2 separate regions of the Homo sapiens genome follow, and region 2 is reported to be linked to region 1. The links are microRNA targets in miRTarBase. Many come from high-throughput screens and were not tested one by one. Region 1 holds a microRNA gene; the other region holds the end of a gene's coding sequence.
What was found. Region 1 holds the annotated microRNA hsa-miR-301a-3p (CAGUGCAAUAGUAUUGUCAAAGC, at 2,516-2,538, shown strand). A microRNA usually pairs through its seed, bases 2 to 8, with sites in the 3' UTR of a target mRNA and lowers its output. Matches are read on the target gene's strand: a 7mer-m8 pairs with bases 2 to 8, a 7mer-A1 pairs with bases 2 to 7 and ends in A, and an 8mer does both.

Region 1 (4,000 bases):
GTGCCTGCCCTGCTTTCTTCAAGCTGAATCTTGGGTCTCTAACTTCTTCCTTGGAAAGGATGGGTGGTGATCCTGGAAGAAACCTCACCCACCCCCCATTCCCACCCCAGAAAAAGTGAGGCCTTGATATATCTTATTTTCTTCTGTTGTGCTAATGAATTGGAGTGCCTCTCATATACAAATTTAATTTGAAGGCTTTCAATTACTTTTAGCATTTTGTGTTTAAATTTTCTTTGTGCAGTGTGTGTGGGGTTGGAGAAGTGTAGGGAGAAATGGGAGGGAAGAAGGAAGAATTTCCTGCAGATTTTCAAACCTGTAATAATGAACTTTTAGTTTTAAGTTTTATTATCATTTAAAAAAAACAAAATGTTAAGCATTGTAATTTGATTCTGTCAACAGGCTTAAATGTTAAGACTATCTTGCCCTTCTCCCATTCTGAATTCCTCCCTACTGATATAGATATTTCTGCTTAAATTCATAATTCATTTCTGCTAAATGATGCTAATTCTGCTTTTAACAGGTTGTTTGCTTCTCAAATTGGCTGTTTCTAATTTTTAAACTTCGTCTGGCTTTTACAGTAGAGTCAGTATTCTCACAGGACTTCTTTAGATTGAACAAATTCTCTTTTAAGTGAACAATGATGAAGTAAACATTTTGAAAAAGTAGGTTTTAGAAAATTATAAGGTAGCCAGACATTTAAACTTTTAGGTATTGTTTGAATGATGGGGTAGTATTTAAATTCTTTTTGAAGACAGGAAAAAAAGAAATGAGGTTTTTTTCCTTTCTTACATCCTTGCAAGTAAATTAGTGGTAGCTTTTTTTTTTTTCCTTTCAGGTTATTAGTTTGTTTCCATAATTATTAGGGTTTAGAAATGAATTTTTATCATGGCTCTAATTATTACTGCTTTGTGTTGACTAGATAATAAAAGACAGTGCATCTCATCTTCAGATTTACCATGTGCTTCTAGAAAAAAATGTTATACTTGTGGACCAGTTTATTTTATAAGATTTTAAGAGTAAATGATTCCTGTGCTATCTTCTGATTTTTGGTTTTACATCAGTTAAATAAAGGATTTGTCAAGGTAAAAGGAAATGCATAATATTTAATTTGAAAAGAAAGTGTTTATCCTAATTTTGTTAATACCTTAAATTTTTTAAATATTTTTCTTGTTTGTAATAACTTCCAATTCAGAAAGTTAAACACTTATCTTTTAAACAGTTGTCTTTAAAACCTGAAACTTGGCTACCAGCGTTAAATATTCTAATATTTTAGTTATGTGGCCCAGGATTTGACACCAAGACACTTATATTTCAGCTGTCCTTTGTATGAGCCCATTTCCTTAGTAGGCTCAATCCGACTAAGTAGTTGAATTGGACCGTTTAAAGGGAGGTTGGTGAAAATAATGAAAATATATTTTTGCATCAATCAACATTACTAATGGGGGAATAAGCTTATTGTAGGGCAATCTTTGTTCTCTGACTTTTTCCCCTTCACTTAATGATGGGGTGGTATTTGTTTAGCTTTGTTCTTTCGTGGTACTACTAGTGACTGTACACAAAAGGTAATGCAGTGTGATACTATGATACTATTTCTGTTTCTGGGTTTACATCTGACTTCTGATTGGGTTCTTATCCGTTAAAAAAGTTAAAATGTCAATTAGCTTGGAACTAAGGAAACTTGTTACTTAAATCTCAGTCCCACCTCCCCCCATCATTATTTTCTCTTTGACATTTCTAAGTTTGAAGGAAATGGAGATGCTTTCTGCCTCTATTTAAGATTTCAGGAGTTAACTGAAATTTTAAAATCCCCTTGGATAGTATTCAGTTAGATAGGGTTAATGTTCTGTTTAGAGCACATTGATTCCCTTCTGTTGTTATGACAGCCCTTAGTAAACTCAAGATAAAAAGCTGTAAGATGGTAAGTGCTTTTGTGTTTTCTTTGTTTAGTGGTTTAGATTCCAGAGTGATAGATTGAGTATGTAGAGATTGAGAAACTTATTATTTTACTTTTCATTTGTTTTCTTTGATACTTTTATTCAAAGGGCTTGTTTTACATGGCGTTTAATCAGTAAATTGCCTTGAAGAAGGAGCTAACCAACATCTCTGCAGAGAACAAAAATATTTTTCACAACTTTGCCTTAGTAGTAATTATAACTGGTTTTGTTAATACCAATCCTAAAGTATTAACAATACCCATTCTAATTACTATTAAGGCTTAGGGCATATTTACAAAATTCCTTTCTACATCTATGCATGTTTCTGTTCGAATGTTAATTTGTATATTAGTCATCAATAAGCAACATCACTTTGATATTTAAGTCTTATCCTTTTTTAAAAAAACATTGATATAAATGTTTTTTGGTTTTGGATGTTTTTCTGTCCAAAATGGCAACCCTACTTTAAATTCGTTTCTCACTGAAGCTTCAACCGATGCAAGATGCTTTTGTGTTCCTTTCCTACTTATTACTGCTAACGAATGCTCTGACTTTATTGCACTACTGTACTTTACAGCTAGCAGTGCAATAGTATTGTCAAAGCATCTGAAAGCAGGATGCACGCCAGAATTTTGATTCTTACCTTACATCTTTCTTCGGTATCAGTAAATAATTTACCACAACCTTTGTTGCTGAGAACTATAATGTTGTTACTAACAGTATATCTTTTAGAAAGTCATAATTTGAAAAAAAAAAACCTTTTAACTAATTAAAAACAATATTTTACTGCATTATGAAACACGTCTGGAGAATATTTTTTATATCTAAGTTGTTATGGTTTGTCTAAATGAGTAATACTTTATAATTTGTTGCTTTCTGTTACATATTTGGATAGGTTCTGTCAAACTTTAGGTTTTATTTGAGTTTTATGATGAATTGGTAGTGATGGAAACAATTTCTGCTGTATATTTTTCCTGCAGTTACTTGCCCCAAGTCATTTTTTTTTCTCCAGAGACAGAGTCTTTCTCTGTTGCCCAGGCTGGAGTGCAGTGGCCCAGTTACACCTCACTGCAGCCTTGTACTCCCGGGCTTAGATAATCCTCCCTCCTCAGCCTCCTAAGTAGCTGGGACCACAGGCGTGTCCTACCATGCCTGGCTAATATTTTCTTGAAATTTTTTGTGGAGACAGGGTCTCACTGTGTTGCCGAGGTTGGTCTTGAACTCCTGGGCTCAAACAGTCCTCTTGCCTTGGCCTCCCAGAGTGCTGGGATTATAGGTGTGAGCCACTGTGCCTAGTCCTCCAAATCTTAATTGGTGTTAATTTTGTGTATTGTCTAGGAAATGGTTGAATTTAAAACCTAAGAGTGTTTGTTTTACAGTTTATTCTTATGAGATACAATAGTGTGGATTCATCACTTTTAAAAAATATGAATTTTATTGAGATACAATTATATAAAATAAAAGTAAGTAAGCTATTTGTTAAGCAAAGCCGAAGTCTTGCTGTGTTGCCCAGCTGGAGGGCAGCGACTATTCACAGAGGCAATCATAATGCAGCACAGCCTAGAACTCCTGGCTTCAAGCAATCCTCCCACTTCAGCCTCCTGAGTAGCTTGGACTACAGGGGTGTGGCATGCCCAGTGAACTGACGAGTTTTGACAAATGTATACAGTCATGTAACCACCACCACAGCCAGGATATAGAACATTTCTGTTACTTTACAAAAAGCTCCTTTGTGGCCAGGCATGGTGGTGCACCTGTAGACCTAGCTACTCGGGTGGCTGAGGTGGGAAGATCACTCGAGCCCAGTAGTTCCAGACCAGGCTGAGCAACAGAGTGAGACCCCTACATTCCTTTGTGCCTCTTTGTGGTCAACCTCTTCTTCCCCAAGTCCCTGGCAACCACTGATCTCTAGTTTAACTTTTCCTAGAATTTCATATAAATGGAATCATACATTATACAGTCTTTTGTGTCTGGCTTCTTGCACTTAGCATAATGCTTTGAGATTCATCCATGTTGTATATTAGCAGTTGGACAGTTTTTATTGCTGAGTAGTATTCATTGTATAG
Region 2 (4,543 bases), not on the chromosome of region 1:
CTCCTGCGCTCAATGATCCTCCCACCTCAGCCTCCTGAGTGCTGGGACTATAGGCGTGTGCCACCATACCCAGCCAATTTTTGTATTTTTTGTACAGACAGGGTTTCACCATGTTGCCCAGGCTGGCCTTCAGCTCCTGAGCTCAAGTGATCTGCCCACCTCAGCCTCCCAGAATTCTGGAATTATAGGCATGAGACACTATACCCAGTCTCATAATTATTGTTTTTAATGCAAAAAGCTAGTAAAGATGTAAGACAGTCAATCAAATAATTGAAATAATCCTCTCTTCTCAAATCCAAAGGTTTTGTCTTAATTACCTTGCTACTTTTAGATTGAATTAATCCGTGAATAAATATTAATATTGTCAGTTGTATCTTTCAGTACCACCTATGTGCCCATTTCTTTATTAATGAATTGGAACCATAAAAATATGGAGTTTTTAAATAACATTTTCTTTTCTGATGACAGAAACAATACTTACACTGTGTTAAAAACTTGGAAAATAAAAACTTAGCCAGCCTGGGCAATACAATGAGACCTTGTCTCTACAAAAAAATTTAAAAATAGCTGAGCGTGATGGCATACGCCTGTAGTCCCAGCTACTCAGGAGGCAGAGGTGGGAGGATCTCTTGAGCCTGGAAAGCGGAGGTTGTAGTGAGCCGAGATTGCACCACTGCACTCCAGCTTGGGTGGCAGAGTGAGACCTTATCTCAAAAAAAGAAAAAATTTGAAGGAAAAAATTATTCAAAATTTATCACCTAGAGAGAACCAACTATTAACATTCTTTTAAACTCTCAGTCTTTTGTTCTGCATAAATTTTAGGTTTTAAGAATGATTTTTCTTTCTCTCCCAGTCATGGCACAGATTGAAAAACAAGAGAGATTTGAACAGTATACTACCTGTAAGAGCTGCTGTCCTGAAAAGATAACTGGCCTCTATTTCTTAATAAATTCTTCCAAGAAATAAAGAACAATAGTTTCATCATAATACATTATGTTTACCTCCATCATAGTTGCTTTTTTCATAGTTCTTGTTTTCATGTTTTATTTTTAAAAAGACATATAAAGATTGCATATTTTATTATGACATTTCCTAATAAACCCCTTTGATTTAAAAATGTATTTTTAAAAATGTTTACATTGATGATGAGTAATATTGCATGTGTTTTCAGGTGATCAGATAAAATATATTTTGGGAAATTAACTGAACAAATAAAAAGTTTTTGATATAACTTCAATTAATTGTACCACATGCTAATCCTGAAGAGATGTGTAGAATTTTGGAAAGGGTCTAATTCATACATGCTTAAAGTATAACCTACGTTAGATAGTTTGTTGTCAAAGTCTGTTCTAGTAAAGTGAAGATTCAAGTCAGTTGTTCAGTTACTTGAAGCAAAACGAAATCTTTCATTTCAGTCAAATCACTGCAGTCATGAAATACTGAACAATTGCCTTAAGTCTTTGCTTGACTCACTGGGATAGACTGAGGCTTTGGGTGTGTCTGTATTAGCATTTCATTAGTACTTCACATGCTTTTGATGTACTCTTGAGATTGCTTTAAATTTTGTATTGAAACAACAATACATTTTGCACTGTAGTAATGGGAGCACTAACTCTTACAACAGTTAGTGAATCGTTTTAAAGAATCAGTTCAGTGTAGACATTTTGAAAAGATTGTTTCCTGTGCTTTACGATAGCTTAGTGCAATGTGCACTTCTGTTTTACTTGCCATTTTCCTGCTCTGTTTTCTCTGTGACATGAAGCAACAGAAACTGAGATCAAAGTTAAGATTATATCCTGTTTGTAGTATCAGATATTTTTCTGTGTACAATTATAGGATTGTAATCTAAACTGGAATTTTTAGGCAGTAAGTCACCACAAAATGTTTTAGATAAGACACAATAAAATTATTATAAATAAAAGCTTAATGTTTGTAAAAAATCTCTTTTTTAGTATTTCTTTTTTCACATGAAAGAAGTGGTGGCTGCTAAAAAAAAAGCTACAGTGTTTATTAAGGGTCTTTTTGATTTATGTAAATATTTGTAAATTGGTCAGTGCCTGTAAATTTAAATATAAAAAGTAACCTTGAAAACAGTTTTAACTTTTTCAAAAGAACTATGTCCAACATTTTTTAGACCTGCTGTAGTACAGTTTTGTACCTCTAACGTATTTTTTTTTTGCAGACCAAATGCTAAAACTTTTGCTTTTCTTTGACTTGTAAAAGGTGCACATTTTCATTTTCTTCCTTAAGTTCAAATTTTTGTATGATGTCAAATGCAATAAAATTTATATATGGACATTGTTGAGGTGCCTTTTTTTTCTGTGAAAATCTTTGCTTTGAGATGAGACCGAGGCTGTAGTTATCATCTAGAACTGAACTAAATCTACTTATTAGCCAGCTAACGACATCAATATCTTATGTCTCTGGCATTATGAGGAATGAAAGTTTACACATAGTGAATTTTTTAGATTCCTGATGTGTAACACTTTTTATGCATTTGAGCTTTTCATATTTTGGGGGGGAATTTTTCCTAAAATTTACACTGTGCATCTCTTAATCAGAATGTACTGAGTAGAGTTAATATTCTAGTGATGACTGGGTAATCATTATAAGCATTAGTCATAGTACTATTCAGTAATACTGTGCAACTTTCAGGGATGGGTAAGTATGTACCCTCTGCCTCTACAGTATTATGACATTTCCTAATAAAACCCCAGAATTTACCATGGTGTGGGTTCCTTCACTGTCACTGTTTTCTCAGTTTTCAGTGGCCCCACACTTACTACTGCTTTTCTTTGTTTTACCACGAAAAACAGATCAAGAAGTCACTAAACTTAGACCCAATTCTATATCAGTAGACTGAGGCCTGAAATTATGCACACATAACTGGCCAAATATCAGATAAGTGAACTGTTAATATATGAGAGAATTTTCTGGACTTTTAAGTTATTAATCTCAATTATTTGTGTGGTGAGTACTAAATTATTTTCTGTTTGTGTTGATCTGTCCATTTCTGTATATAGTTGTCCCTCAGTATATTGAGGGATTGATTCCAGGTCAACCCCGTCCTCTTCAGATACCAAAATCCACAGATACTCAAGTCCCTTATATAAAATGGTGTAGTGTTTGCATATATCCTACACACATTCTCTTGATACTTTAAATCATCTCTAAATTACCTGATACGTAATACAATGTAAATGCTATGTAAATAGTTGTTATACTGTATTGTTTAGGGAATAATAATGACAAGACAAAAAGTCTATACCTGTTCGGTACAGATGCAACCATTCTGCCTCCTCCCTACCCCCTCCCAAATATTTTTCATCCTGGTTGAATTCACAAATCCTACATGGTTACGGAGGGTTGACTGTATTTGCATATGTTGTTAAAGTGGTGTTTAAAATGTGCAATCTGTACTACAATTCTAAATTTTGGATTGATTTGAACTAGGATCTTTGCAAATAAATCTCATAGACATTAATGTTTGTAAGAAATTTTTAATTAAATGATGGAAGGAACATAGAATGGCTACCTGTGATTTTGATTAGTGTTTAACAGATTGCCACAGCTGTGATTGAATTCCTTTTGTACTGGATGAGCATGGTCATTTGGGATTACTGATGGTGAAGTCTAGCTGGTGTTAAGAGAATAAATATTGCTGATGCTAAACCTGGTTTAGTGAGCTGTGGAAGCCTTGACTCTGCTGTTTTCCCTCCTTATGCCCCACTAGCTGATGTATCTGTACTGTAATTCAATGATTTACAGTTCATTACCTCCAGACATAATGCATGCATACCAGCTCGTGTAACTGGTGAATAATCCCCAGCTTACAGTCATATTTAACAACTCTGTGACTTGCTATAATTAAAAATAAATGTTAACTCTTCTAGCCATCAAATCATTCTCATGAAATGAATATCTTTATTGTAAAGTTACCTCCATTTGTACATAGCAGTTCTGGTTCTGTTCTCTTCAGGGAGCATCCATTATATGTACCTGCTATGTGCTAGCTACTTTGCTAGTGTGTAGGCTTGTAAGAGATGGGGATGATGGGACAAAGAAGAGTAGTAAACTTACGAAGTCTGCTGGGGAAGGAGATACAAACATAATTTGAATATAGGATTATGTGGGAACCTGGAAGAGAGGTACTGAGTTTAACTTTGGGATTTCAGTGAAAGGTGGTGATCTTGAATGATGGGTATCCTGGTAAAAATGGGACCAACCTTTGAGGCAGAAGGAATTGTGTTAATAAAGACACAGTGGAGTGACTTGACAATGTTGGGAACTCCTGACTTCTAAAGACACCTGACCAGCTGGGCGTGGGGGCTCACACCTGTAATTCCAGAACTTTGGGAGGCTGAGGTGGGCAGATCACCTGAGGTCAGGAGTTCGAGACTAGGCTAGCCAATATGGTGAAACCCCGTCTCTACTAAAAATACAAAAATTAGCTGGGCATGGTGGTGCGCGCCTGTAGTCCCAGCTACTCGGGAGGCTGAGGCAGGAGAATCGCGTGAACCCAGGAGGTGGAAGTTGCACTGGA

Region 2: miRTarBase lists TENT2 as a target of hsa-miR-301a-3p. Seed matches in the 3' UTR shown: 7mer-m8 at 1,587-1,593.

Annotation. Positions count from the first base shown.
Region 1 is chr17:59,149,687-59,153,686 of GRCh38, reverse strand. MIR301A (microRNA 301a) reads left to right here and starts at 2,466; the gene lies at 2,466-2,551. All of the region lies in intron 1 of SKA2 (spindle and kinetochore associated complex subunit 2), which reads left to right. RefSeq lists a silencer at 3,508-3,587.
Region 2 is chr5:79,684,346-79,688,888 of GRCh38, forward strand. It overlaps TENT2 (terminal nucleotidyltransferase 2), which reads left to right. Exons shown (of 15, transcript NM_001114394.3): 15 at 854-3,901. The coding sequence ends at 928. Among named protein-coding and RNA genes, the nearest start is that of CMYA5, 3.2 kb to the right of the region's middle.